Homo sapiens: one gene and its partners. The protein of the gene in region 2 interacts with the protein of the main gene of each other region in a pairwise test. Each region holds a gene or a part of one and is shown on either strand. Other genes may lie near its edges.

Evidence for each region.
Region 1: the proteins of COQ8A (region 2) and MAL2 interact in binary tests that used the Homo sapiens proteins (3 or more experiments, as listed by UniProt).
Region 3: the proteins of COQ8A (region 2) and STX10 interact in binary tests that used the Homo sapiens proteins (3 or more experiments, as listed by UniProt).
Region 4: the proteins of COQ8A (region 2) and LITAF interact in binary tests that used the Homo sapiens proteins (3 or more experiments, as listed by UniProt).

Annotation. Positions count from the first base shown.
Region 1 is NC_000008.11:119,203,506-119,211,460, reverse strand, and holds the start of MAL2 (protein MAL2), read right to left. Parts: upstream 3,099-7,955; 5' UTR 2,989-3,098; coding exon 2,857-2,988; intron 1-2,856. UniProt on the Homo sapiens protein: Member of the machinery of polarized transport. Required for the indirect transcytotic route at the step of the egress of the transcytosing cargo from perinuclear endosomes in order for it to travel to the apical surface via a raft-dependent pathway.
Region 2 is NC_000001.11:226,963,620-226,971,715, forward strand, and holds part of COQ8A (atypical kinase COQ8A, mitochondrial), read left to right. Parts: intron 1-1,380; coding exon 1,381-1,791; intron 1,792-2,051; coding exon 2,052-2,118; intron 2,119-8,096. UniProt on the Homo sapiens protein: Atypical kinase involved in the biosynthesis of coenzyme Q, also named ubiquinone, an essential lipid-soluble electron transporter for aerobic cellular respiration.
Region 3 is NC_000019.10:13,143,154-13,148,067, forward strand, and holds the end of STX10 (syntaxin-10), read right to left. Parts: intron 2,435-4,914; coding exon of another isoform or gene 2,402-2,434; exon of another isoform or gene 2,387-2,401; intron 2,243-2,386; coding exon 2,135-2,242; intron 1,718-2,134; coding exon 1,611-1,717; intron 1,519-1,610; coding exon 1,424-1,518; coding exon of another isoform or gene 1,356-1,423; exon of another isoform or gene 1,334-1,355; coding exon 1,257-1,333; 3' UTR 905-1,256; downstream 1-904. UniProt on the Homo sapiens protein: SNARE involved in vesicular transport from the late endosomes to the trans-Golgi network.
Region 4 is NC_000016.10:11,576,327-11,584,422, reverse strand, and holds part of LITAF (lipopolysaccharide-induced tumor necrosis factor-alpha factor), read left to right. Parts: intron 1-7,430; exon of another isoform or gene 7,431-8,096.

The DNA of each region.
Region 1 (7,955 bases), on a different chromosome or scaffold from region 2:
TCAACTGTTGATAGCCCAGTCCTCCTTTGTCAGGTACAATTTTCACATGTTAAGTTTCAGAAGGCAATGGGACAGAAATGAAGAACTCTTAAAGACAAACGAATTTGAACAGAAGGTCAAAATTAAAATGGAGTTTGAGGATATCCAGAAACACCGGCAGAGGTTAAAATAATGGGTCCCCAGAATGGAGATCACTTAGCATTTAGGACAGTGCCTGGGAAATTCTCACATTTACTTTACAGGTTGAGGAATTTCTGAGGAGGAGCCATGGGAGATGGCCAATTTTAAAAGAATCAGAAAATTAGATGGAAATTGAGACATCTAGGAGCTAAGTTGCTTCAAAAGTGTTCACTTAGCTTCTATCTGTACATCCACTCAAGATGAGTATTCTAAATGGAGGGGTAACAAGCCAGCTTTGATCTCTGCTCTCTTAAAGCATGTAAACCAATATCTCTAAACAGTCCTAAAGGATGAGAGCCGAGGAGCTATAGTTTGACTCTAGTGTGGTCTCTTGTTTTGTTTCTCTAACGTCACCAGTTTCATTGGAACATTTTGGTCATTTTTCAATGGGGTGGGGGAGATTGATATTCAAGTAAAGGAGATAAAGGGGGCCTAAAATGTAAACTTATTGAGTTGGCCATAAAAAGAGAGAAGCAAACTAATAAGCTTTTGGAAGTGATGCTGTTCTACGTAGCCAAGAGTGTGAGACATGTTTCAGGATGTAAGAAGCCAGAGGAAATGAGATAAGAGGATTAGATTGGACACTTCTGTGAGTCTGGAATCCCTCCTAGGTTGGGGAGTGGTGGCAGTTTTAGCGGATAGAGAGAATTCACATCTCTGAAAGCAGAGCTGTCTTCTCTAGGCTCTGAATATTAGAATCACCAGGGAAGCTTTAAAAAATAACTAGTGAACTCTGGCACTCCCCCAGAGATTCTGATTTAATTAGTCTGGGCTGGTAACAGTTATTTTAAAAAGCTGTTCAAGTTATTAAGTACAGCAAGAATTGAGAACTAACCTCTGGGCTAGATTTAAAAAAGATATAATGGGGAGGGGGAGGGGGAAATTGACTAAGTCACTTTCTATTCTTTTCCCCCAGAATTAGGCCTTGTTTCCTAAAAGTCTGACATGACTACAGGTTCTTGAGATGGTATTTGATTAGAGGGCATATGGATAAGCCTTCTTTGCATATACACATGTATATATATTTACATATACACATACATGTATCTTTACATACATACATACATATATTTGAATAAACATTAGAAAAATATAACCAGAATATCAAATTTGAAATTTCATGTATATTATTGCTTAAGAAAAGACAAAAGTACTGAAGTTTAGAAAGTATTTCAATGAACTGTCTGTAAATTCTAGTACAGGTGGAATGCGGATATGGCAAAAACTTCTCAAAGAGGTAGGCAAAAAACTGGAGCTTGCAGAACATGGAATAAAGTAGCCGAGAACCTAAGAAATCGTTCTTTGCAGATCTTCCAGTTCTAAACGTGTCTCCCTCCCACAGCAAGGCAGCCAGCCCAATGCCATCGTCTCTCCGCTCTTCCCACATGGATGCCTGCACCTCATCCCAAGCACTCAGATGCTTCTGAACCAGGCTCAAACTCAAACCAGCCTCGCAGTCAGGATCCCATTACTGATGTCATAGCCTGCAACTCACTCACGTCTCCTCTTTCAGATTCAAATCCGGGCTAAACTTAACTTAGGGTGGTGTGGCTACCTGAGCATAATAGAACAGTGCTCACAAGGTGATCCAGCTCCACAAGCACAAAAGTGAAACCAAAGCGACCCAAATAAAGGTTATGCAAGCTCAAAGGCCAGGGTGAGGGGAGAGATGAAAATCCTAAACCGAGCAAACAATACCAGCCTGCCGGAAAGGCACTAACTCGCTAACATTTCACTTTTTATTTGCCATTCTCAGGCATGATGCAACCTCAGGTTGCCCAATTTATATTTGCACATTATCTACTTGTCCACAAGGAGCTTCGAAAGTTTCCAACTCCATAAAATTCCATTTAAAAAGTTCAAGTGCTACCTAAAAAGGCTGCACGACAGGCAGGTAACCCCACCTTTACTTGGGCCCAACAAAGTGTGCTAAAAAGGTTTGGAGTTGCGTAAGGAGGCCAGGAAGTGAGAAGGTGCAAAGGCAGGCAGAGAAGAACTCGAGAGCCACGTTTCCATCTTTCCCCCACCATTGTCACACCCACTGGATTAGAAACTGCCCAGGGCATGGCACATAACTCACCTTTCTCCTTGCCCTGCCTCCTGCCCAGCTCCTCTTTCCAATCCAAAGGCCACTAATGATGGCAAGGGTGAGTGGGGAAAAAGCATGTTCAAGTCCTCAGCCCTCTTCCTCTTCCTGTTGCCTCCCGCCCCCACTTTCCACAGCGTGGCAGCCACCAGGTCACCCAGTCATCGGCTACACCTTTGCACCACCCAACAAAATGGCAGGTTAGCAACAGGCGAGGCCGAGAGCCAGGAGCTCGCTCCGGCCAAGCGCGGCCCCTGGCCATGCCCTGGGTTTCTAAAGGCGCCTCTGAGCCCCAACACCTTTCTTTCCTCCACGTCCCCAATGTTCGGCCCTGCCGGGCCGCCTACTCGCCCTCCCCAGGCAATTTCCGTCGCCCGCGGGGGAGCAGGTGCCCGCGTAACAGGTGCTAGGAGGGAGGGCCCGGGCGGCGGCGCGGGGCACCGAGAGGACCCCGGGAGGGAGCGCAGGACAAAGCCACGTCGAAGGGAAGGAGGCCGGGGGCGGACGCAGAGGAAGACAGCCCGGGGGACAAGGATGCCGCCGCCTGTCCTCGCTCCCCGCGCGACCCTCGCTCCGGCGGCCCCACTTACAATCTCCAGGCAGACGAAGGCGCCCGAGTAGGTCCGCAGGATGTCGGGGCCGGCGGGCAGGGTGACCCGGGGCGGCGGGAAGGACACGGCGGGGTTCGGGGGCGGCGGGACTGACGCTCCGCCGGCCGACATGCTGCCGCTGCCGCTGCTGCGTCTCCGCGCGCCGCCGCCGCCTCCCGCCTCCGCCTCCCGGGCTCCTGCCGCCGCCGCCGCCGCCGCTCAGCTCCGCGGGCTCCGGGCGCGCCGCGCGGGAGGAGGCGTGGCCGTGGGGCTCCTCGAGCCCCGCCCCGTCACGTGGGCCCAGGTGAGCGCCGCTCCGCCCTGGCGCCCGAGCCGCTCGCGATCACGTGCACAGGTGCGGCTATTGCAGCCGCCAGGCGCGGTCCTCCCAGCTCCGCCGACCTCACCTCCTGCTCCGCTGGCCAGCGCCAGCGCTCCGCGGGCGTCTCCATGCGCACCCCCATACCCCTGATCGCTATTTTTACCTTCTAGCCCTCCCCTTAGTTTGCACCTGTGCTCTCCACCTGTCTTCTCCCCAGCTCTCACAGCGCGCCCTCGCCCACTGTGCTCAGTTTGACAGATACACAGGTCTTGGTGCTGTGACTCAGAAGGTAAAATCGAGGTCACCAGTCACACTTAAAAAGTGGGGTGCTTATGTTTTAAATGGGACTCGAGTGGGATTTTTTTAAACGCCACTAGGGCAGCGTCGCGCGTGGGAGTCGGATGAGTCAGCTGCAGCAGCCACTGGCGCGGGGTCCCTGCAGGTCACCGGAGGTGTCCTCGTCCGTGAAACGGGGATGTGAAATCCACCGGCATAGATGCTCACATTAGATCATATAACATGAAAAGAGTTGAGCGCACAGTAAGCTCCTTAAATGCTAGCTGATATGATGAGAGCTCTTTTCCTTACACAGGCGCCTATCACTGCTCAGTGGACACACGATGTTGCATGGGTTATATTTTTTTAAGTAGAACTTTTAATTATTGATTTCACTGGTATAAAACTAATTGCTTATTGCCTTTTAATGGCTTAAGGGGATTTTTTTTTTAAGTCTATGTATGGTTCGAATTTCCTGCTCTAGTTTATCCCCATTTATCTCCATTTTATCGTTGGTTTTAACGTCAACATTTTGTAAGTTCAACAGAGGAGATGAGCTTAATTTTCTCGTCTACTAAAGATGAGCAAATCTACCAAATCTACATGCATCAGCACACACAGGTAGACCACGTTGGAAAAAAACATTGGCTAATCTCATCAGACATTCTCCAAGTTGAATCCTGACCTTGCCTGTCAGGTTCAGTCTCTGAGGAACTGTATTTAGCACTATGCTCTGCTCAGCAGATTCTAGTTACTCTACTTCTCTATTATTTTAATAAGTGAAACTCATAGGTGTGGTTGTGGCATCCGGGTAAAAACCACAAAACAGGGTGTGGGTGAAACCTTCTGTATATCCCTCCTCTCCCCACCTCTTAGTCACCACTTTCTGATATTTAATGTGTGGTGTTTATTTAATAGGAAATTTTAAGTTTTCTGCATGGATTTGTTTGATCGATGAGCCCTGTCTGTATTCAGACTCTGGCACGGGATGATCTTTCTGTTTTATTTTCTGCCTAAGAATTCTCAGTAAGCACTTAAAAAATGTTCAAAGGAAAGACTTCAAAGAAGTAATCATGGAGATGATCAGCAACTACGCTATGCCCAAAATATTTTAGTGAGTGAATTTAATACGTCCTTGGAGTTTCTAGAAGGGCTAATGATTCAGAAGAGCCTCAAGTGAGCTTATTTTAGCATTGCCACCTAGGAGAACACTTTCAACTGGGTCTCTTACTGCACCCTCCTTGCTGTACTGCATATCCTCAGCCATCTTTGCTTTGCCTCTCCTTCCTGCTTCCACAGTGACCAGTGGCATGAAAAAGGTTGTCAATGAGCGCTCTGTTATTGTAACATATTATCTGCTTGAAAAAGAACACTTTTTTTTTTTTTCGAGACAGAGTCTTACTCTGTCTCCTAGGCTGAAGTGCAATAGTGTGGTCTTGGCTCACTGCAATCTCTGCCTCCTGGGATCAAGCAATTCTCCTGCCTCAGCCTCCTGAGTAGCTGGGAATACAGGCACCTGCCACCACACCGGGCTAATTTTAGTATTTTTAGTAGAGACAGGGTTTCACTATGTTGGCCAGGCTGGTCTCGAACTCCTGACCTGGTGATCCACCCACCTCAGCCTCCCAAAGTGCTGGGATTACAGGTGTGAGCCACTGTGCCTGGCTGAAAGAGAACTCTTTTCTAGAACACTTTTTTCTCTTATGATCGCTACCAACACCTGTTTGTTCTTGATAATACCAGTTTCCTTCTAGTGAAGGCAACACCTCTAAAATCAAAGGAAGAAAACGCACTTAGCTCCACTCCACCCCACTCCTCTGCCTCTTCCTCCAGGACACTAACCATGAGCTCTTAACAGTTTCAACTTTCTGCTCTTTTCCCAACCTGTTCCGGTGGTTCCTGACTTCCAGCATAACTTTAACCCTGCTCATAGACTTCCTTTGGACTCCATTTTTATGGAATGTCAACATTCATGTTGTTATATTTTTAATGATCTTGACTCAAAACGACTTGCTACAGTCAATAAATTCTCACCTTATTATTGGGAATTTTTATGCTTCCATTCTCTTGGACACTGACATTCTGATGACTGTCTCCTATTGGTTTCTCTCTTTCATCCCCAATTCTTTGGCCTCCAGCCTTACCATCCCTTGCATTCTCTCATTGGCCCCATTCTAGCTTTTCTAGCTTCCCCTTCCAGCCTGTGCTTATGGGAAGGCATTTTCGTGATGCTCGTATTGATCCCACATTTCTTCCCATCTTGTACTTGACTCTAAACTTACTCTCACCGTTCCTTATTCTTCAGCTAGAGTTCAACCCACAATCTACATCTGCCCTCTCTGAATCATTCATCACACTGCCCAGGGTTGCTGAAAGAAGGTCATAATGAAGACTCTTGGTTCCACTACTAATTCATGTGATCTAATCCCCTAAAAGGTCATTTTCCTTTTACCTCCCCCCGCCTCCCCCACTGCCACCCCCATGCCTGGCAATATTTCTCTCAGTTCTTATCCCATAGCTTCTTTTGTTTTACCTGTCCTTGTGCCTGTCACAAGTAGGCTTATGTTCAGCGAATGAAAACAAATCTAGACTGTTCCACCCTTCCATAGTTTCTTTTAGCTTACAAGAAGTTTTAGGACATCTAGCCAGTAATACTTGTTTCACACTGCCATCAATCCAGTTATCCAAGACAAACACCTGGGTGTTTCCCTTGGTACCTCCTTCTCATGACACATATTTAATCAGTCACCAGGTTCTGGCAGTTCTACCATTTTATTTTCTAGAATATATGCACTTTCCATTCCACTGTTCTGACTCACTATCCCTCTCACAGTGAATGCTCTTCTCAGAAGGAATATGCTTCTGACAGTGAATTTCCCTCTCTTATATTCTCTGCACTGCTATCTGAATGATCTCTCAACAGAAAATTTATCAGTCACCCCTCTACTTAAAACGCCTCCAATTCCTTACTTTTCTCAGGATCAATTACAGATGCCCTGGAGTGCATTCAAGGTATTTCTGGCAAGTGGCTTCTGATGAGCCCTCCCACCTCACCAGCCTTGTTGATCCACCTACATCTTCAATACCTCCTGCCTCCAACCTTTACACATTCTCCTCTCTTTTGCAGGATATCCTTTCTTCTTACCACTCCCATATCCTCAACCTATTTTCTGTATATTTTGGGTCACAGGGACAGATATTTCTGGCAGCCTTTCTCTGCCCATTCAAGATTATGTAGGGCCCCCTGTCACCCAGTGTGTTTCTATAACCTGCTGTGCATAATCCACACAGAGAACGTATATCATTGAATTGAAATTGTGTTTTTACTTGTCTCCTATTGCTTGCTAGTGTTGTGTAACAGGGTATTAAATCAAAAAGTTCAGTGGAGGCACCAGGAGATGGTAGATATCAGATACCAACATGAGCTGTGAATCAGACCACCAGAAGTTTTAAAGTGGCCCGACTGTGATCTCCTTAGACAATCTATAAACCCACAATTCTATCAAGAATATGAAAAGCTCAGGAGTTACAGGATTTGGAAAGATTTCTTTTTTGGCAGTGGAGTGGGGAGGCACCGTGCTGGGAATCACACTTCACTCTTCCCCTCCTCCATCCCCTTCTTCCCCACTGGAGGAAACAGCTGAGTTTTATTCACATTATATAATAGAAACTCAAGTAAAATCAGCTGACGAAGTGAACACTGCATCTAAATTTCTATGCTTCATCGTTGTTCCTATGCTACTTCATGTTTCATAAGAAGTGTTTCTTTTCCTAGGCAAAGTTGAGCCCCATCTCAGCTTTTTATCATTTCCCCTTTGTATTTTTCTTAGGAAATTCATTCTTAATTTTCTTTTCTGTCTCCTCAATGTTCAATTTTTGCTTTATACACAGCCTTTCTCTTTGAATATGCATGCTTCCCTTATCATCAAAAACAGCAACAAGTAATTCCAGTCCAAAATACAATAACCAGGACTAGATTAACCTTCCTTGCACAAAACAGCTGAAATCCCAGAGGAAATATATGAAACAATAGTTTCAGACATTGTACTTCAGGTAACACAGAACAGTGATCCACTGGAGATGGGAAAAAATGAGGTGAGCCCTGCGATTTCCCCAGCTTGGGGAGAGTTTTCAGAGCACAGGGAGGGGAGACACTGGTGGAAGCTAGCAGTCTCCATGAGATGAGGTGGTGAAGCTGGGAATTTGAGGAGGCCAACCAAGCTAGAGTTCACAGAGTACTGGGGAGAAAAGAGCTGCATACAGATAAACACTGGGAGGCCAGCAAAGGTCCCCTTTATTAAATCTTCAATTGAGTGCTGATTAGCACATGAAGGTGACTAACTTACCCAAGGCCAGGGCAGAAACATTCCAAAGGAGCAGTGGAATAATCCCAGGAATTCATGCAGGACCAGGAATAGTTCACATTTCCACCATTCAGAGTGGAAAATCTCCTAATTAATGGAGCACTGGATAGAATATTCTGAAGAGTATTGCCTCAGTA
Region 2 (8,096 bases):
TTTGAGATGGAGTCTTGCTCCATTGCTCAGGCTAGAGTGCAGTGGCGCAATCTCTGCTCACTGCAACCTCCGCCTCCCAGGTTCAAGCGATTCTCCTGCCTCAGCCTCCTGAGTAGCTGGGATTACAGGTGCCTGCCACCACGCCTGGCTAATTTTTGTATTTTTAGTAGAGATGGGGTTTCGCCATGTTGGCCAGGCTGGTCTCGAACTCCTGACCTCAGGTGATCTGCCTGCTTCATCCTCCCAAAGTGCTGGGATTACAGGTGTGAGCCATCGCACTGGCATAAATACAACTTGTTTCTACTCTGAGAGTAGTGCCACAGCCAGCAGGGCCAGCCTGGGTGTTGGATCCCGGCTCTGTCATTTGCTGCCTGGTGACCTTCACCAGCACATCAGCCGTCTTTGCCTCAGTTTCCTGTTTTTGAAATGAGTGTAACAGCCTGTCTCTCTCCTCCCTCCCATCCTGTGACATCTTAGACAGCAGAACGTGAGGCTTGGGTATCCTGCTGTCTGCATACCCTGCGCATTTCATTTGTTTCAGTTGAAGCCGAGAATCCAGGCCACTGGTCTCCCTCTAGAAGCCGGTGCTGTTCTAATTATAGGCTCCTGGGTGCTGTTTCCTGGCCCTGTCTGTGGCCTCCAGTAACTGTGACTGTGAGGAGCCCTATTTTCAGATGAGGAAGTAGCAGAGAAGGGTCAGGAGCTCACTCAAGGTCACTCCTGGTTCAGAAGCAGAAAGGACCTGGGCCCGAAGCTCAGGCCTTGGTGACCATCACAAAGAAAACATGGCGTATCCTCTCCCCTGCCCCTCCATTTCCCTGTACCCTGAGCTCTTAGGGACGGCCAGGCCTGGTCCTGGTTGTAACCACCTCTCCAGTGAGGATCTCTTACATGCATACCCCGGCTGGTGGGTGGCATCCATGTCTGCAGTAAGCTGTGGGCTTAGGTGGGCCCGTCGGTGTGCTTCCCTCACCCCTTGCTGGCCTTAGGCTGTGTGTTCACCTCTCAGAGCTTTCCCTGTCTTTTGCGCCCTGGTTTACCATCTCCAAAGCCCTGGAGGCCTTCTTGGCCCTGTTTTATAGGTGAGGAACCCGCTGCGGGCGTAGTGTGCACTTGGCCTGGCCCCGGCTGGGCACACAGTAGGTGCTCAGTGTCCCACCTAGGACCACACAGCAGAGCCCCAACAGAAGCAGGGCTGGAGCCCAGGTCCCGGCTCCCAGGCTGGGAAGGGTGCCGGGCCTCAGGTGCAGCACTGTGCCACCTCTGGAGGTGGGAGGGGGCGGGATGCTGGTGGTGTGCTGTCCTGGGCAGCAGGGGACAGGCAGGGAGGAGCTCCTGGCTCGCTCTTGCTCTCCTAATGCTGGCCTTTGCTCCCTGCAGGGTCAGGATAAACATGAAGAATATTTTGCTGAGAACTTCGGCGGCCCAGAAGGGGAGTTCCACTTCTCAGTCCCGCATGCAGCCGGAGCCTCCACAGACTTCTCTTCAGCCTCCGCTCCCGACCAGTCAGCGCCCCCATCCCTGGGTCATGCCCACAGCGAGGGCCCAGCTCCTGCCTACGTGGCCAGTGGACCCTTTAGAGAAGCCGGGTTCCCCGGCCAGGCCTCCTCCCCTCTGGGCAGGGCCAACGGGAGGCTCTTTGCAAACCCCAGAGACTCATTCTCTGCCATGGGCTTTCAGCGAAGGTTCTTCCACCAGGACCAATCCCCTGTTGGGGGCCTCACAGCCGAGGACATTGAGAAGGCCCGGCAGGCTAAGGCTCGCCCCGAGAACAAGCAGCACAAACAGACGGTGCGTATGGGAGGCCCCTGGAGGGCCGAGGTAGCTGCCACCCACAGCAGTGATGGCCTTGGGCTCTGCTCTAGGGACTTTTCCTGGGTGCTGTGGTCTGGGGTTTTTAGGAGCGTGGTGGCCTTCTCTTGGTGGAGTGTGCTGTCAGGCGGAGCTGCTGACTGTGGGGTGGAGAGGAGATGTGGGGGCAACAGGAGCCTCTGAAGGTTGGTCCTGTCCCCTTGGCTGATTCCACAGGTCTCTTTCTCGTCTCCCTCCAGCTCAGCGAGCATGCCCGGGAGCGGAAGGTGCCTGTGACGAGGATTGGCCGGCTGGCCAACTTCGGAGGTAAGGTGGCTGTGTGCCCCTGGACTGCCTCACCTGCCCTGCCTGGGCACCACGCTGCGGCCTGCATGGAGGTGGGGACCCAGCAATATCCCGGGGAGGGCGTTGGGGGAGCAGGTGGCGGTGGCCGCCCCTGCATGAGCTTTTGGGGAGCTGGAGTTTTTCATGGGAGGATGATTCAGTTACTGGATTCCAGCTCTGCCTGGCTCTCCCCTGCGGGTTGGTACAGGGCCGATGCTGTGCCAGGAGCTGAGTTTGGATTGCCCGGCAGGCCTCGCCTGGAGGCGGTGTCTGCAGCATCTCTGTTTCACCCCTGCCTCAGGTTCACTACCAGTCGGCTGCTTTGGAGGCCTCTCAGGAAGGAGGCTGGGCAGTGAGGAAAAGCTCTTCCCTGGGGCTGTTCAGCAACTCAGCAGGGCTTTCTTTCCCCCTGGGACCAGACATTTAGGGAGCCCATTTGCTGGGTCCCCACAGGCCTGCGGCTCATGAGTGGAGTGACAAGATGCCATGGCCTCCAGCTGCTGCTGTTTAAAGCCGTTTGTCTGTACTTTGGGGGGTTGAGTTGTCATTGTGCCCAGTACACATGCGCTCTTTTTATAGAAGTTGAAGGGTGATTTTATAGTGAAGGTTTATAGCAGTTGTGTCTGCTTTGATGGCATCATGTTTGTCATGCTGCTGCTAATGCGCTGGCCCAGATGTTCCTGTTAAAGTGCCATCTCCTTTGCTGTGGTACACTCTAAGTTAGTTACTGGGATTGCATTTCTTTAACACTCAGCTGTCCTCAGTAGGTTCTCCAGGTGATATAATTAATGGAAGCCACAGTTTTGGTGGCTTGATTTGGACCCTGACCTTGGGTGAGTGGTTAGTTCCAGGGCTGTAGGCAGCAGAGGTCTGAGTGGTCCATGATGGTGCTGGTGCTGGGTGGGGCATGGAGATGCACTCTCATGGGTCTGCCTGTCTCTTTGCTGGTTTATGTTTTTCCTCCCATACACCATCCATCATACATGCTGTTCCTCCGCTCCTGCCTATTCTCTTTTGGAAACCCCATCCTACTTGTTCAAGACTGGTTCTGGGCAGAGGCTCACGTACTGTGCTCCCCGAGAGCCTGGTATTCTGGGAGCTGCGTAATGTGTGTGGGTTCTGACATTGAATGATGGCTGGCCCCCCTCTCCAAGGTGCTGAGCAGACTTGGTTAACTGGATAGAATTTTCTCAGCAGTAAGGTTTTCTTTCATAATTTTTACCTTAATATTTGGCATCCACTGTACTTAGCCATTCAGGAATTTAGTATGAAGTGTCATCTATGTGACAGCCAAGAGTATTTGCTTATTTCCTTTTCCTGGGGTAACATTTCAAGCAGTCCCTCATAGAATATCACACCTCCCTGAGTTCTGCTGTCAGAATGAGTTTGAGAATCACTGCCTTGGTGGCCTCTAGTGGTCCTTATCCCCTGGAAGACTTGGCATGTTACTTGCTTTGCACATTGGCTTGTCATTGGGTAACATGTATTATTTCTTATTAAAATATTGAATGGAGGCTGTCTTCTTTCCCCATGATATTGAGGGCAGGAGCTACCCTGTTTTCACATCGGTACCTTTTCTCTGTCCCCTCCCTCTTCCTTTCACTCTAGACTCTTGGTGAGCCTGTCCCTGGAAGGCTGAGTTTGACGTGTTTCAGGACTGGTGCAGTCCTCACTTCGGAGTCTTTGTGGGGTGGGGAGAAGCGGTAGAGCTAATGCAGGCTGTTAGGGAAAAGTGGTCAGAATGAAAGTCTTGATGGTGAATTAGAATCTGGTGGAGCACCACGAAGTCCTGGCGAAGGAGGCAGTAGTCAGACCCTTTTGGGTGACGGGTTAAGGAAGACAGAGACTGATGTGGAAGGGGTTATATATAGGAAGATGTGTAGGAAGAAAAAGGTAGAGAGCTCTCCTCAGAGGGTGGGGGATTATGGGTAGCCAGAGGGAGCCTGGGTTAGTGGAGTTGAAGCCCTAGTCTTGGGTGCTTTGTAGCATCAGAAGCCTCTGGAGCCTTTGCTGACACCTGCCTGATGTACGGAGCCATCTGTGGGTGTCTGTGTGCTGGAGGATTGCCCACAGCTATGATTCAGAGATGCTCATGTTGTTGCCCAAGCAATTGACAGATGATGTTTCAGGCTTGGAGATGGCAGGATGGGAGCAAAGAGAAGCCAGGTCAGGAAAGAACGTGCCGTTCTGGCCCTAGTGGGGAATTCTGGGCCTTCTGGCTCACCCAGTTGAACCTTTCAAACTGTAGGTTATGACCCTTTAGTAACTGTGAAATTAATTTAATGCATCAGGATCAGCATATAAAAAACAAGTTAACTGTAATCTCAGCACTTTGGGAGGCCGAGGTGGGAGAATCACCTGAGGTCAGGAGTTTGAGACCAGCCTGGCCAACATGGTGAAACCCCAATTCCTACTAAAAAAATACAAAAATTAGCTAGGTGTGGTGGCATGTGACTGTAATCCCAGCTACTCGGGAGGCTGAGGCACAAGAATTGCTTGAGCCCAGGAGGGAGAGGTTGCAGTGAGCTGAGATTGCGCCACTGCACTCCAGTGGGGGCGACAGAGTGAGACTCTGTCTCAAAAAACAAGTTAAACAGAATGGAATTCAATAGAAAAGATTAGAATTAATATCGTACATCCTTACAATGAACTATACACATGGCAAGATATTTTAGTTTCAGAGACATACATACTATTTAAGTATGTTCTTCACTACAATGTGAAATATATAGCTTACTGGTGGGTCATCATCCAAACAGTTTGTAGTTGCACTGTTGCGCTTTGTTCTCCTAGAAAATACCTCTAGCCTTTCTTCCCTTCATGGAGGAAAGGTGTTTTTCAGGTGCAGACTGACAGACTTTAGGAAGTTTTTACACGGGGTTATGAAGGAAAGGGATTGCTCTAGGTCTCAGGGAGGTAGGGCTGCTGCAGGGACCCAGACGGGTTTTCAGCGAGGTTGGCAGTAGGTATTCAGCTATATAGAAGTGGAAGTCAAGGACTTTCCAATTCCAGGGGCTCATTTTGATGCTGAAATGGGGGCGGGGCATGAGTCCTAAGTCCAATTTGGCTATGGGACATTATGACTGTGATGCTATGGGCAGGATGATCTGTGGATATTAGATTTTCTTAAAGAGTGGTGTGAAAGAAAGGGTCATATATTGGATATGGGGTCAGAACTGAACTTTAGTTCATCATAATAGCTGTCCTTTGATTACAACTGTGCTTCCAGTGTGACCTTGGGCTCTACCGTGGTTTTCTCTTTTGTAAAATAAGGGTCTTGCCGTTGATTCCAAATGGGAATATTTTGGTAAATGTTCCATGTTTACCTGAAAATAATTCATGTTGAGTGCAGTGATCCGTCTATCTAGTCTGGTTTATTATTCATATTGATCAGATTTTTAAGTGATTTTGGTTTGCTTATTCAATAAGCTATCGAGAGAGGCATTAAAAAGTCTGCTATGATTGTGGATTTACCTACTTTTAGTCTATTGACTTGTGCTTTATATGGTTTGAAGCTATGTTATTTGTTGCCTACAGATTCAGAATTCTTTTTTTTTGTTTGAGACAGAGTCTTGCTCTGTCGCCCAGGCTGGAGTGCAGTGGCACAATCTTGGCTCACTGCAACTTCTGCCTCCTGGGTTCAAGTGATTCTCCTGCCTCAGCCTCCCGAGTAGCTGAGACTACACGTGCGTGATAAGTCTCGATCTCCTGACCTCATGATCCGCCCGCCTCGGCCTCCTAAAGTGCTAGGATTACAGGCGTGAGCCACCGCGCCCGGCCAGATTTAGAATTCTTCTTATATCCTCCTAGGGATTGACCCTTCATTCTTATGTTATGCCTCTTTTCATCTCTGTGAAAGTCCTCATTGTCTGATATTACTATAGCTACATTCCAGCTTTGTTTTGGGTAATGTTTGCATGTTACCTTTTTTTTTTCCCCTGTACTTTCAACTTTTAAAATGTCCTTATGTTTAATGCATATCTATGAGCAGCATATATAGTTGGTTTTTTGTGTGTTTTAAGTGTAGACTGATAATCTTACAATGAGAATATTTAGTCCATTTACATTTAAATGCAATTGTGGATGTATTGGAGTTTATATCTACTACCTTAGTTTTTGTTTGTTTACTATTTGACCTGTCTGTTATGTCCCCCTTTTTCTCACCTGTTTTGCCTTCTTTTAAATTAATCAAGGACTTAAAATTATAGTCATGCGTCTCTCTTTTTTTTTGGAGACAGTCTCGCTCGGTCACCCAGGCTGGAGTGCAGCGGCGTGATCTCGGCTCACAGCAACCTCAGGCAATTCCCATGCCTCAGCCACTCGAATAGCTGGAATTACAGGTGTGTGCTGCCATGCCCGGCTAATTTTTGTAGTTTTAGCGGAGACAGGGTTTTGCCATGTTGGCCAGGCTGTTCTTGAACTCCTGGCCTCAAGTGATCCACCTGCCTCAACCTTCCAAAGTGCTGGGATTAAAGGCATGAGCCACCGCACCTGGCCCTCATGTGTGTCTTAACAAGGATTCAGTCCGAGAAATGTGTCGTTAGGCAGTTTCATCATTGTGTGAACATCATAGAGTGTACTTACACAAACCTAGATGGTATAGCCTGCTACATGCCTAGGCTGTATGGCATAGCCTGTTGCTCCTAGGCTACAAACCTTTACAACATGTTACTGTACTGAATACAGTAGATAACTGTAATACAACGGTATTTGTGTACCTAAACATAGAAAAGGTATAGTAAAAATATGATACAATCTATCACTGTCGTATATGCAGTCCGTTGACTGAAATGTTACATGATGCGTGACCGTGCATGTTCTCTCTTTGTTAGCTCTTATGTTTTACATTCCTTTACGGTTCTTTTGGTGATCACTCTTGAGATTACAGCACGCATCTTGACTTATTACAATATAAAAATAAGTGATTATTTTTACTACTTCTCCAATGATGCTAATACCTTAGAACACTTTTTAGATATTAAGATATATTAAACACCACAAGAATTATTTCTTTGTACAGCCCATATGAATTTAGATTTACCCACATATTTGCCCTTTTTTGTGTTTCTTTCTTCCTGCATTTCTATAATTTTATTTGGTATAATTTTCTTTTTCTCTGAGGAACTCTCCTCTCTCTTACAGTGTAGTCTGTTAATCATGAATTCTTTTAGTTTTTATTTATTTTTTATTGATTTATTTTTTGAGATGAAGTTTTGCTCTTGTCACCCAGGCTGGAGTGCAATGGCGTGATCTCGACTCACTGCAACCTCTGCCTCCCGGGTTCAGGTGATTCTCCTGCCTCAGCCTCCTGAGTAGCTGGGATTACAGGTGCATGCCACCACACCCAGCTAATTTTTGTATTTTTAGCAGAGATGGGGTTTTGCCATGTTGGCCAGGCTGATCTCGAACTCCTGACCTCAGGTGATCCACCCACCTCTGCCTCCCAAAGTGCTGGGATTACAGGCATGAGCCACCACACCCGACCTAGTTTTTATTTTTTTGAAAATGTCATTATAGCTGGGCACGGTGGCTCATGCCTGTAATCCCAGCACTTTGGGAGGTCAGGGTGGGTGGATCATGAGGTCAAGAGATCGAGACGATCCTGGCTAACACGGTGAAACCCCATCTCTACTAAAAGTACAAAAAGTTAGCTGGGCGTGGTGGTGGGTACCTGTAATCCCAGCTACTTGGGAGGCTGAGGCAGGAGAATCACTTGAACTGGGGAGGTGGAGGTTGCAGTGAGCCAAGATGGCGGCGTTGCACTCCAGCCTGGATGACAGCTCCATCTCAAAAAGAAAAAGAAAAAAAAGAAAAAAGAGAATATATCATCATACTTTATTTTTTTAAGGTATTTTTGCTGGGTAGAATATTCGATGTTGAAAATGTGTTTCCTTTGATCACTTTAATAATATTCCTCTATTGTTTTCTTACTTTGATTGTTTTTTTGAAAATGTGGCTAT
Region 3 (4,914 bases), on a different chromosome or scaffold from region 2:
CAGCTACTTGGGAGACTGAGGTGGAAGGCTGCCTTGAGCCCAGGAGTTCCAGGCTGCAGTGAGCCATCATTATGCCACTGCACTCCAACCTGGGAGACAGAGTGAGAGAGACCCTGTCTCAAACAAACAAACCCAAAATAGGCCAGGCACAGTGACTCATGCCTGTAATCCCAGCACTTTGGGAGGCTGAAATAGGCGGATCATTTGAGGTCAGGAGTTCAAATTCAAGACCAGCCCGGCCAACATGGCAAAACCACATCTCTACTACAAATAAAAAATTAGTTGGGTGTGGTGGAGCATTCCTGTAATCACAGCTATTCAGGAGGCTGAGGCATGAGAACCGCTTCAACCCAGGAAGCAGAGGTTGCAGTGAGCCGAGATCACGCCATTGCACTCCAGCCTGGGCGACAGAGCGAGACTCTGTCTCAAAAAAATATAAATAAAAATAAAAAGATCAAGAGAACCTAAACCATTAAAAAAAAGACTCGCATGGGTGCGGTGGCTCCTGCCTGTAATCCCAGCACTTTGGGAGGCTGAGGCAGGCAAATCACTTGAGGTCAGGAGTTTGAGACCAACCTGGCCAACATGAGGAATCCCATCTGTACTAAAAATACAAAAATTAGCTGGGTGTGGTGACACACACCTGTAATCCAAGCTACTTGGGAGGCTGAGGCAGAATTGCTGGAAACCAGGAGGTGGAGGTTGCAGTGAGCAGAGATTGCACCACTGTACTCCAGCCTGGGTGACAAGAGTGAAACTCTGTCTCAAAAAAAAAAAAAGAAATCCGGAACACGCACATGTGCACACACACACTGGAGCACTTGTGCAAGCAGTGGCTTAGAATGGGAGTCCCAATCAGGGCTCGGTCACGCATTTGCAGTCAACACACACCACACGACACAAATACGTATAAAAAAGGCTGACATTTTATTTCCAGGTTGGCACGTGTATAAGGCACAGGGGCAAATGGCTTTGGGGTCCTGGAACTGGAAATGGAGACAGGTGTGTCTCAGGTGTCCCTGCCTCCACCACCCCCTAAGTGCACTTGAGACAGGACCAGTGGTGGTGGTTCCAGCCCAGGGTCCTGAAGGGTCCCACTGGCTCTAGGGGAGAGCCATGGGGACAGCTCCCCAGGCGGGACCCTCTACTCTCCAGCTACCCAGGAGGGACCCTCTCCTCCTAGGGGGCGAGGCCAGCTCCAAAGTGCTTGGTGGCTCCCCAGGCTTAAGGGACCAGCCTGCCAGGGAGGGCTGGGGTCAGAGAGAGAATAGTAAGATGAGAACGAGGAGAAGCACCCCCACTAGCACGGCGATGGCACACCACTGTCGGCGGTCTGGGAACGAGAAGGTCAGGGGTCACGGGGAGAGGGTACCACCTACAACCTGCCCCCACCAGGACTGACCCCTCCCCTGAGGGGACTCACCACTCGTCATGTGGGATACTTTGGCCAACTTCCTGAGGACCCCGTCCATGCGGGACTGGGTGTGGTCCATCTCTTGGGCGAAGGCATCCAGCATGCTGCCAAGAACAGGATGGCATCAGCCCCAGATGGCCCAGACACACCAGGGTGGCCGAGAGCCCCTGGCCCACCCCCAGGGTCCTGGCCTCACATGCCCTGCTCGTCCAGCTCTTCTCCAACGCGGCCGGACATGTGCTTCAGAACCTGGATGCTCCCAGACACCATCTCCAGCTGTTGATCCTGTTCATCCATGATCAGCTGCAGAGCGAAGGGGTGGGAGATGCTGTTGAAAACGACCCCAGAAGGCCAGGCGCTATGGCTTATGACTGTAATCCCAGCACTCTGGGAGGCCGAGACAGGCGGATCACTTGAGGCCAGGAGTTCGAGACCAGCCTGGCCAACATGGTGAAACCCCATCTCTACTAAAAATATAAAAATTGGCCAGGCATTGTGGTGGGCGCCTGTAATCCCAGCTACTAGGGAGGCTGAGGCAGGAGAATCACTGGAACCTGGGAGGCGGAGGTTGCAGTGAGCTGAGATCGCGCCACTGCACTCCAGCCTGGGCGACAAAGCGAAACTCCATATCAACAACAACAACAACAAAAAGGGACCCCAGACCTCAGATCAGTCTGCAAGGCTCTCCCCTCCCAAGATCCACCCCGCTGGCCCCAAAACCTGCTGTGTGGCCTGCTGCTCCTCGATGTAGCGAGATGTGGCCGAGACTGCGCTGGCATCCAGCAGGTCGCTGGGTGACTTCTGGGCAGCTGGCTTGCCTGCGAGTATCTGCAGGGGCACACAACATAGGCTCAGGGAGAGACCCCAACTCACAGCGGGGCCTGTGGGGCAAATCCCCACGGTGGTAAGTCAGGGGGGCAGACTCTGGGGCAGGACAGCCTGCATTCCCCACTCACCACTTACTAGCAAGGTGACCCAGAGACCCCATCATTTGGCTTCCTTGTGCCTCAGTTTCCTCATCTGTAAAATGCAGAGAGCAGGATGGGGCATGGTAGCTCATGCTTGTAATCCCAGCACTCTGGGAGGTGGAGGTGGGCAGATAACTTGAGGTCAGGAGCTCGAGACCAGCCTGGCCAACATGGTGAAACCCCATCTCTACTAAAAATACAAAAATTGGGCCGGGCACAGTGGCTCACACCTGTAATCCCAGCACTTTGGGAGGCCGAGGTAGATGGATCACGAGGTCAAGAGTTTGAGAGCAGCCTGGCCAACATGGTGAAATCCCGTCTCTACTAAAAATACAAAAATTAGCCAGGCTTGGTGGCGGGTGCCTGTAATCCCAGCTACTAGGGAGGCTGAGGCAGGTCAGAATCACTTGAACCTGGGAGGCTGAGGTTGCAGTGAGCCGAGATCACACCACTGCACTCCAGCCTGGGTGACAGGTTAAGACCTTCTCTCAAAAAAAAAAAAAAAAAAAAAAATTACCGGGTGTGGCAGTGCATGCCTGTAATCCCAGCTACTTGTGAGGCTAAGGCAGCAGAATCGCTTGAACCTGGGGGGCGGTGGTTGCAGTGAGCTGAGATCGCACCACTGCATTTCCAGCCTGGGTGTCAGAGTGACCTTGCCTCAAAAAAAAAAAAAATAAAATAAAATGGGAAGAGCTAGAATCCGTGTTTCCTGGGTTGAAATGAGGATTTAAAGAATTAATTGATGGGGGACACTTACAGCAGTGCCCAACACATAGTAATGCTAGTAAATGTCACATTTTACTATTTGTTTATTTTTGGGGGGATTTTAGCTGGGATTACAGGCACCTGCCACCACATCCAGCTAATTTTTGTATTTTTACTAGTGATAGGGTTTCCCCATGTTGGCCAGGCTGGTCTCGAACTCCTGACCTCAAGTGATCCACCTGCCTCAGCCTCCCAAAGTGCTGGGATTACAGGCGTGAGCTACCATGCCTGGCCCAACAGATGTTTGTTTGTTTGTCTGAGACAGAGTCTTGCTCTGTCACCTAGGCTGGAGTGCAGTGGTGTGATCTCGCCTCACTGCAACCTCCACCTCCCGGGTTCAAGCAATTCTCCTGCCTCAGCTTCCCAAGTATCTGAGATTACAGGTGATCACCACCACGCCTGGCTAATTTTTGTATTTTTTGTAGAGACAGGGTTTCATCATGTTGGCCAGGCTGGTCTCGAACGCCTGACCTCAGGTGATCCACTTGCCTGGGCCTCCCAAAGTGCTGAGATTTTAGGTGTGAGCCACCGTGCCCGGCTCCAACAGATGTATTTTAGAGTTTGGACTTGAATTCCCCCAAGGCAGCACATCTGGAAGGCACGTGGGCACTGCTATGGGATGACAAACTGGGAGGAGCCTCAGTCCCCCACCCTCCCCGACCCCACGTACGCTTATGAGGGAGAGAGAAAGGCTGGTGGTTCTCAACATATGAAAAATATCAACAGAGAACACCAAGAGAAAAAGTGGACTGACAGAGGTGGTTGGGAGAAACACAGAAACACACACACACACACACACACACACACACACACGGCAGGCACATTACAGAGGAAACTAGCAGATATTAGGATATGAGGGGGGAAAATGCAGATACACTCAGAGGCCAAGTGCACGCACCCAAATAGGTTAGGTGCATGCACAGATGAAAAGGCGGGGGCGGATCACCTGAGGTAGGGAGTTTGAGACCAGCCTGGCCAACATGGGGAAACCCTGTCTCTACTAAAAACACAAAAATTAGCTGGGCATGGTGGCACACTCCTGTTGTCCCAGCTACCCAGGAGGCTGAGGCAGGAGAATTGCTTGAACCCGGAAGGTGGAGGTTTCAGTGAGTCAAGATTGCACCACTGCACCCCAGCCTGGGCAACATGCCAAGACTCCATCTCAAAAAAAAAAAAGGAAGCTGGCCGGGCGCGGTGGCTCACGCCTGTAATCTCAGCATTTTGGGAGGCTGAAGCTAGTGGATCACAAGGTCAGGAGATCAAGACCATCCTGGCCAACATGATGAAACTCCGTCTCTACTAAAAATACAAAAATTGGCCGGGCGTGGTGGCTCACACCTGTAATCCCAGCACTTTGGGAGGCCGAGGCAGGTGGATCACGAGGTCAAGAGTTCAAGACCAGCCTGGCCAAGATGTTGAAGCCCCGTCTCTACTAGAAATACAAAATTTAGCCACGCATGGTGGTGGGTGCCTGTAATCCCAGCTACTCGGGAGGCTGAGACAGAATTGCTTGAACCCGGGAGGCGGAGGCTGCAGTGAGCCGAGATCACGTCACTGCACTCCAGCCTGGGCGACAGAGCAACACTCCGTCTCAAAAAAAAAAAAAAAAAAAAAAATTAGCCGGGTGTGGTGGCATGTGCCTGTATTACAGCTACTCAGGAGGCTGAGGCTGGAGAATCGTTGAGCCCAGGAGGCGGAGGTTGCAGTGAGCCGAGACTGCGCCACTGCACTCCAGCCTGGCAACAGAGTGAGACTGCATCTCAAAAA
Region 4 (8,096 bases), on a different chromosome or scaffold from region 2:
ATTACCCATCCTCACTGCTCAGAGGTGTATAATAGCACTTTGAGAATGGGCTGGTGCCGTTTTGTGACTTAAACTTCTCCCACTGAATAGGAATTTCCCCAGAGCTACAGTGAGGGTGGAAAAAAGAGGATCTGCAAGAGGAAGTCCTGTATTCTTGGCACTGTGACTTGTCCTCTATTTGTTTTCGCTTTTACAGCAGTGAAAATAGCCCCGTGGGTGAGGCGGTCTATCAGGTAAATAGACTTCCTTAGTTCTGTGTTTCTTTAGCACACATATTTTTGACGTCTCCCGGGTCTGTTTGGCCACCCATGGTCTGTTCTGAATTTGATTGATGTTTACTTGCCTAAGAATTGTTATTTGAGGTCAAGTGGCATTTTCCAGGGTCCTCATAATTTCATCTTGTTGTTTGAGCCTGTATTGATTGACACTCTGGACACAGGTGACAACAGCTTTGTAGCTAATGAAGTTGTCCCTTGGCTGCAGGTTATTTCAGTAGAAGAATTGTGTAATTTCATAGAGCTTAAGGCATGGACACAAGAAAGGAACCATTCTGGAGGGTGTCTATGTGATGGTAATTCTCTGCTCACCTCGCAGTAGGTAGGAGTTTATATACCAGGATCCAAAGCTGGAGGCTTCAGAGAAAATAATGTTGGAGAATTTAAGCTATTTAGCTCATGGAGCCTTAGATTTAATTGACAGTGTGCCTCAGGTAAGTTTAAGAGCTTAATGATGTCTTGCCTTAAACTTGAATCCATGAGGTTATTCCTAGATGATGCACTGATAGTTTGAAATTTTTTATTAAAAAATATTAAAGTGTGGAAGATAAAGAAGAAAGGCATAATCTTATAGAACGAAACAACTACCACTGGCTGTCCTTATCGGGCGGCTTCTGTCTTTTGTCTTTGTGCCTGTTTTCTATGAAATTGTCATCAGCGTTCATACAATTTTGTATCCTAATGCAGTCTCAGTCTTATTAATGATCTCCTTGCACTGTTTGATGAAAAACTGTGATTCACGTGGAAACTAGGGATGTGGTTTCACCAGGAGTCCAGAGGAAAACTGCCCACTCTGATTGTGGGGGAGCAGCCCAACTCCCCGATGGAAGCATTTTCCATTCCACAAATCACTGTGATTTGTCATTACGCCATGCTTGAACCTGGCTTTAAGATTGTGGTAACTTTATCTTTGACTTGTGGGACATACCGCCCTGCAGAAACAGCCTGAACTCAGAAGATGGAATTGGCACACATTTCTCTGAAATATTTCACTCTGAGCTTCTGTACTTTTACTGAGGTCTACTGAAACTGGAATTTGTTTGGGATCAAATAACCAAAGGCCAATTTCTCGCTTCCTTTCCCAAAGAGCTGGAGGTCCGGGTTTCCCCTTTTGTCTACCTTCCTGCTTAACCATTTATGGCTTAAGACGCACCATTCACCTTGAACATTTTCAGGAATGATAGACAGGTTAAATTCCATGACAACAAAAACCGTATTGCAGAATTATTGTAGCTTAAAACCTGCCAGGTGACCCTCCTTAGTTTAAGAATTTTAAGCAATATTCAATTTAATAAGTGTACAATTTGGATAGTTCCTGAAAGTTGATTATAGTCAGGATCCACTGTGCTCCCATTATTGGAAATAACGTTTTTCTCCAGAGACCCTAAAAGACCAGACCTTTTTGACCCTCGCAGCTGGTTCTCTTTCTTGTTTACAAACTAGGCTATTTTCTTAGGGGACCTGACAATTTGCATGTGAGTGCCCTTCTTTTGCCTAAGGAATCCCTTTTTTTATTCTGGGGTCATTTCTGCGATATACATATTCATGGGCCTAGCTTAGTGTTTCTTTTCTGGGGGCTGGGAGATGGAGACCAGAGTAGAATTGAATATTTCTCCTTTTTCTTCCTGGAAGAATCGATCTTCGAGGATTAAGTTGGTAGTTAAAAAGCCGCTTTATCTTTCTGAAGGCCTTGCCCTTTTATGTGTTGATCTGATACCCAAATGTAGAAAACAGTTCTATACACAGCTTGAGGATATATTTTTAGAAGAGTTTACCACCCACATGTGGCTAAAGCTTTGTGGGGAGTTCTTTTTTTTTTTTTTTTTTTCCGTTGTGAGTGAAATAGATATTTCACTATATCTTGCTCTTGTTTTCAAACCCTTTAAAAAGCCATTGACCATTTTCTCTTTTATTTTTAGTTGACACATAATAATCATACACATTTATGGGATAAAGAGTGATATTTTCTTATATGTCTCCAGTGTGTAATTGATCAAAGAGTAATTGGCATGTTCATCACCTCAAACACTTATCATTTCTTTGTGTTGTGAGCATTCAGAATTCTCTCTTCTAGCTATTTGAAAATATACACTGAATAATTGTTAACCATATTCACCCTACAGTTCTACAGAACAGTAGAACTTATTCCTCCCATTGAACTGTAACTTTGTACCTATCAACCAACCTCTCTCTAGCCTCTCTTCCCCTCCCCTTTGTAACCTCCAGTAACCACAGTTCTTTTCTCTACTTCTGTGAGCTCAATTTTGTCGTCCTTCCTTTGTGGAAGCTGTGAAATACCTTTCGAGGGGAGTGCGGACTTGTGGTCAGGTGTAAATATGCATTCAGCTGGGCAGAGTTTGGGAGATTCCTTTAAAACCTGTTCTTTTGCTGAAATTCTAGGTATCTTTTTATTTTATTTTATTTTTTATTTTTCACCTCATCAGTTAGAAGTGTCAGAAACTCTCCTTTACCCCCCACTTAGTCTTTGGCATTTAACCAAAATATACTTTATTTACTTATATATTTTTTGAGATAGGGCCTTGTTCTGTTGGCCAGGCTGGAGTACAGTGGCGTGATCACAGCTCCATGCAGCCTCAACCTCCCTCTCGAGCTCAAGCCATCCTTCCACCTCAGCCACCACACTAATTTTAGTGGTTTTTTGTTGTAGAGACAGGGTTTCGCCATGTTACCCAGGCTGGTCTCAAACTCTTGGAGTGAAGTGATCCATCCATCTTGGCCTCTCAAAGTATTGCCATTACAGGCATGAGCCTCACCCCAAAGCACTCAAATTTTGTTTTTTTAAATTGAACTTGAGTGCTTTGGGGTAAGACCTGCCTATTCCATTTCACCTTATAGTTTTTCTTACTCTTGGCCTATGTAGGGGAGAGAGAAGACTTTCTTTCTGCCTTCTGAAGGTACCATAATTGAGCCTATGAAATAAACTGATGATAGATTAACGGATGAAAATACATACAAATTTATTCCATGCATAAATGTGGGAGTCCCACAGAAAGTGAAACTCAAAGCAAGGTCAGATAATTGAAGTTTATGTAGTGTGCCTGAGCTACGAAAAAGGAATAAGCGGCTGGGCGTGGTGGCTCATGCCTGTAATCCCAGCACTCTGGGAGGACAAGGCAGGAGGATCGCTTGAGCCCAGGAGATCAAGACCAGCCTGGGCAACATGGCAAAGCCCTGTCTCTACAGAAAATACAAAAATTAGTCTGGCATGGTGGCTCATGCCTGTGATCCCAGCCACTCTGGAGGCTGAGGCAAGAGGATCGCTTGAGCCTGGGAGGTCGAGGCTGCAGTGAGCCGAGATAGTGCCACCGCACTCCCGCCTGAGTGACAGACAAGACCCTGTCTCAAAATAAAAAAGAAAAAGGAATAGGGGCCTGGGGCTCCTGGAGGCAGGTGGTGATAGGTTATAGAAGGGTAAGGGGAGGAAATGTATGGTGAACAAAGGTTGCCTTGTTAATGCAGATAAAAAGCCTCTTGAATGATGAAAGTTGTCTCAGAGTAGCCTCAGAAGAGCAGGTGATGGCTTGTGACCAGGTGTCGACCTTCAGTCTCCTCTCCTAAGTTAAGATCTTCCAGCCAGGCACGGTGGCTCACGCCTGTAATACCAGCACTTTGGGAGGCCAAGGTGGGTGGATCATGAGGTCAGGAGTTCAAGAACAGCCTGGCCAACATGGTGAAACCCCGTCTCTACTAAAAATACAAAAATTAGCCGGGTGTGGTGGTGGGCATCTGTAATCCCAGCTACTCAGGAGGCTGAGGCAGGAGAATCACTTGAACCTGGGAGGCAGAGGTTACAGTGAGCTGAGATCACACCACTGTACGCCAGCCTGGGCCACAGAATGAGACTCCGTCTCAAAAAAAAAAAAAACTTCACTGGTTGATGAGGGTCCTATGATAGTCACTTTCCTTTACACAGATCAAGTATCTCTTCTCTGAAATGCTTGGGACCGGAAGTGTTTCAGATTTTGGATCTTTTTTTCAGATTTTGAAATACTGCATTCTACTTACTGGTTCAGCATCTCTAATCCAAAAATCCAAAATCCAGAATGCTCCAATGAGCATTTCCTTTGAGCATCATGTCTGTGTTCAAAAAGTTTCAGATTTTGGATTTTCACATTTGGGATAATCAACCTGTAGATTTCAATTTATTGTATCAAAGGGCAGCTTTTCAGAGCTGCTCCTGTGTCTGCAGTTTCTCAGAATAATCAGCTCAATATATGCCAAAGAAATAGATCCTGAGGTGACATGTTCTAGTCTCCTGCAGTCATATTTTGGGGTAGTGTGTCCTGAGCCCCATCACCTATCTGACTCATTTATAAGTGGGATCCCTGAAAGTATTTAAATAAACTTTTAATTTTGGCATAATTTTTGATTTGCAAGAAAGTTGTGAAGTTAGTACAGGGAGTTCCTCACCCAGTTCCTGGTTCTCTCCATTATTCACATCTTACATCACACAGTATGTTTGTCAAACCAAGAAACTGATGAGGGTATGTTATTGTTCACCAAACTCCAGACTTTATCTGGAGTTCCCAGTTCTCCCACTGATGTCCTTTTTTTCTGGGCCAGGGTCCTAACCTAGGGTACTACATTGCATTGATATATTTTATTTTATTTTATTTTATTTTATTTTATTTTATTTTATTTTATTTTATTTTATTTTATTTTATTTTTTGAGACGGAGTCTCGCTCTGTCGCCCAGGCCGGACTGCGGACTGCAGTGGCGCAATCTCGGCTCACTGCAAGCTCCGCCTCCCGGGTTCACGCCATTCTCCTGCCTCAGCCTCCCGAGTAGCTGGGACTACAGGCGCCCGCCACCGCGCCCGGCTAATTTTTTGTATTTTTAGTAGAGACGGGGTTTCACCGTGTTAGCCAGGATGGTCTCGATCTCCTGACCTCATGATCCACCTGCCTCGGCCTCCCAAACTGTGTTTTATTTTTTTGAGACAGAGTTTTGTTCTTGTTGCCCAGGCTGCAGTGCAATGGCACAATCTCAGCTAACTACAACCTTGGCCTCCCGGGTTCAAGCAACTCTCCTGCCTCAGCCTCCCGAGTAGCTGGGATTACAGGCACGCACCACCACACCCAGCTAATTTTTGTATTTTTAGTAGAGATGGGGTTTCCCCATGTTGGCCAGGCTGGTCTCGAACTCCCGACCTCAGGTGACCCACCCGCCTCGGCCTCCCAGAGTGCTGGGATTATAGGCATGAGCCACTGTGCCCGGCCCCACATTGCATTTAGTCATCTTGTCTCCTCAGCCACCCTGGCTATGTTAGTTTCTCAGTCTTGCTTTGTTTTTCATAACCTAGATACTTTTTGAAGATGAGGGATTCTGTAGAATTTCCCTCAAATCAGGGTTGTCTGATATTTTTCTCATGATTACAGTGGGGTTGTGGGTTCTGGGAGGAGAAGACCACGGAGGTGAAGTGTCCTTCTCATCCTGTCACATCAGAGGGCACATGACATGCACATGACATTGCAGATGTTAATATCAAGGGAGAGAGTAAAGTATTCCTGATGTTAATTAATATCAAGAGAGAGAGTGAAAAGGAGGTATTTGCCAGATTTTCTCGCTTGTAGTTTACTGTCTTTCCCTTTTCATAGATGGAGTTTTGCTCTTGTTGCCCAGGCTACAGTGCAATGGTGCGATCTTGGCTCGCTGCAACCTCTGCCTCCTGGGTTCAAGCAATTCTCCTGCCTCAGCCTCCTGAGTAGCTGGGATTACAGGCATGTGCCTGTATATAGACATGTTTCCCCATGTTGGCCAGGCTGGTCTCGAACTCCCGACCTCAGGTGATCCACCCGCCTTGGCCTCCCAAAGTGCCGGGATTACAGGCATGAGCCACCACGCCTGGCGACTCTGTTCTTTGAAAGAGAGTCAAGGAGTCCAGCCCACACACAGGAGAGGAAAGGGAGAGATTAAATTCCACCTCCTACGAGGTGCCATGGCTCATGCCTATAATCCCAGCAGTTTTGGAGGCTGAGGCGGGTGGATTACTTGAACCCACGAGTTTAAGACCGGCCTGAGCAACATATTGAGACCCCCATCTCTATGGAAAGTTAAAAAAAAATCGCTGAGTGTGGTGGTGCACACCTGTAGCCCCAGCTACTCAGGAGGCTGAGGTGGGAGGATCATTTGAGCCCAGGAGTTGAAGGCTGCAGTGAGTTACGATCAAGCCATTGCATGCCAGCCTGGAAATAGTGGAATGAGCAAGACCCCATCTCTACAAAAAATAGAAAATTAGCTGGGCTTGTTGATGCACACCTGCAGTCACAACTACTCGAGAGGCTGAGGGAGGAGGATCGCTTGAGCCCAGGAGGCTGAGGCCATAGTAAGCTATGATGGTGCCAATGGTGCCACTGCACTCCAGCCTGGGTGACAGAGTGAGACCCTGTCTCAAAAAAAGAAAATAAAATAAAAGTGCATCCCCTGGAGAGGGAGTATCTACTCATACTATTTGGAATTTGTCAGTGAGGAAGATTTGTCTTTTCTTGTTTAAAAAATAGACACTTCTGGCCAGGTGTGGTGGCTTACACCTGTAATCCCAGCACTTCGGGAGGCTGAGGTGGGTAGATCACTTGAGGTCATGAGTTCGAGACCAACCTGGCCAGCATGGTGAAACCTCATCTCTACTAAAAGTACAAAAACTAGCCGGGCGTGGTGGTGGGTGCCTGTAATCTCGGCTACTCGGGAGGCTGAGGCAGGACAATTGCTTGAACCTGGAAGGTGGAGCTTGCAGTGAGCCGAGATTGTGCCACTGCACTCCAGCCTGGGCAACAGAGGGAGACTCCGTCTCAAAAAAAAAAAAAAAAAAATAGACACTTCTAATGAGCTGATGCCATAGATACCCTGTCATAGATGGGATAGATGTGCCATATGGGCACAGGAGACCTCAGCTGTGCAAGGATGTCAGATGCACTTGGCTTTCTCAAGCCCTCGTGGGGAAATATAGATCACATCCCTTCCCCTGGGGTGGGCAGAGAGTAACGTAATATGGTCCAGTTAGGGAAATATTAATAGAAGCTAACTTGCAGACAGGAAGCAATTAGGATGCAGGAGGAAGACATATGTCATCAAGGGCTAGATCATGTGGTGTCAGCCAGGGGATGTGAAACAGGCATGAAAAGCGCTTGACAGGCAATGTCCACCACCACCCTGTTCCCACATTATCCGTAAGTCTTGCTAAAGGCAAGATTGCTGTTTTCTGGAATTTTCAAAGACAGACAGTTGGACTACCTGCAGTCATCTGGAATTTGGCCAGAACAAAGGAAGTAAGCAAATAGAAGACTCCCAAATAAGGTATATATTTATCATCAAAGCAGATGCCCAAGCCTGTTTACCTCACTCAGAGGAGGCGCCCACGGCAACTATGAACTCTTACTTTACACAGAGTCCTTGCACGCTGGGTTCTGCTGGTGTCCAAGTCCTCAGAGGCTTTGAAGTAGCAAATTGTGTTGGTGGGATGGAGCCGCCATCAGCCCCATGTTGGACTGTTGGCAGCCTGGGACCGTGTAGAACCACAGATGTGGACACAAGCATTTTTCCTTTCCTTTCTCTTTTTCTCTTTCTCTCTCTCTTTTTTTTTTTTTTTTTTTTTGCAGATTGTAAGAAAGGAGAGGGGAATATGGGAATTTATTTATTTATTTACTTATTTATTTATTTTGAGACAGTGTCTTGCTCTGTTGCCTAGGCTGGAGTGCAGTGGTGCGATCTCAGCTCACTGCAACCTCCACCTCCCAGGTTCAAGCAATTCTCATGCCTTAGCCTCTGGAGTAACTGGGACTACAGGCATGCACCACCTTGCC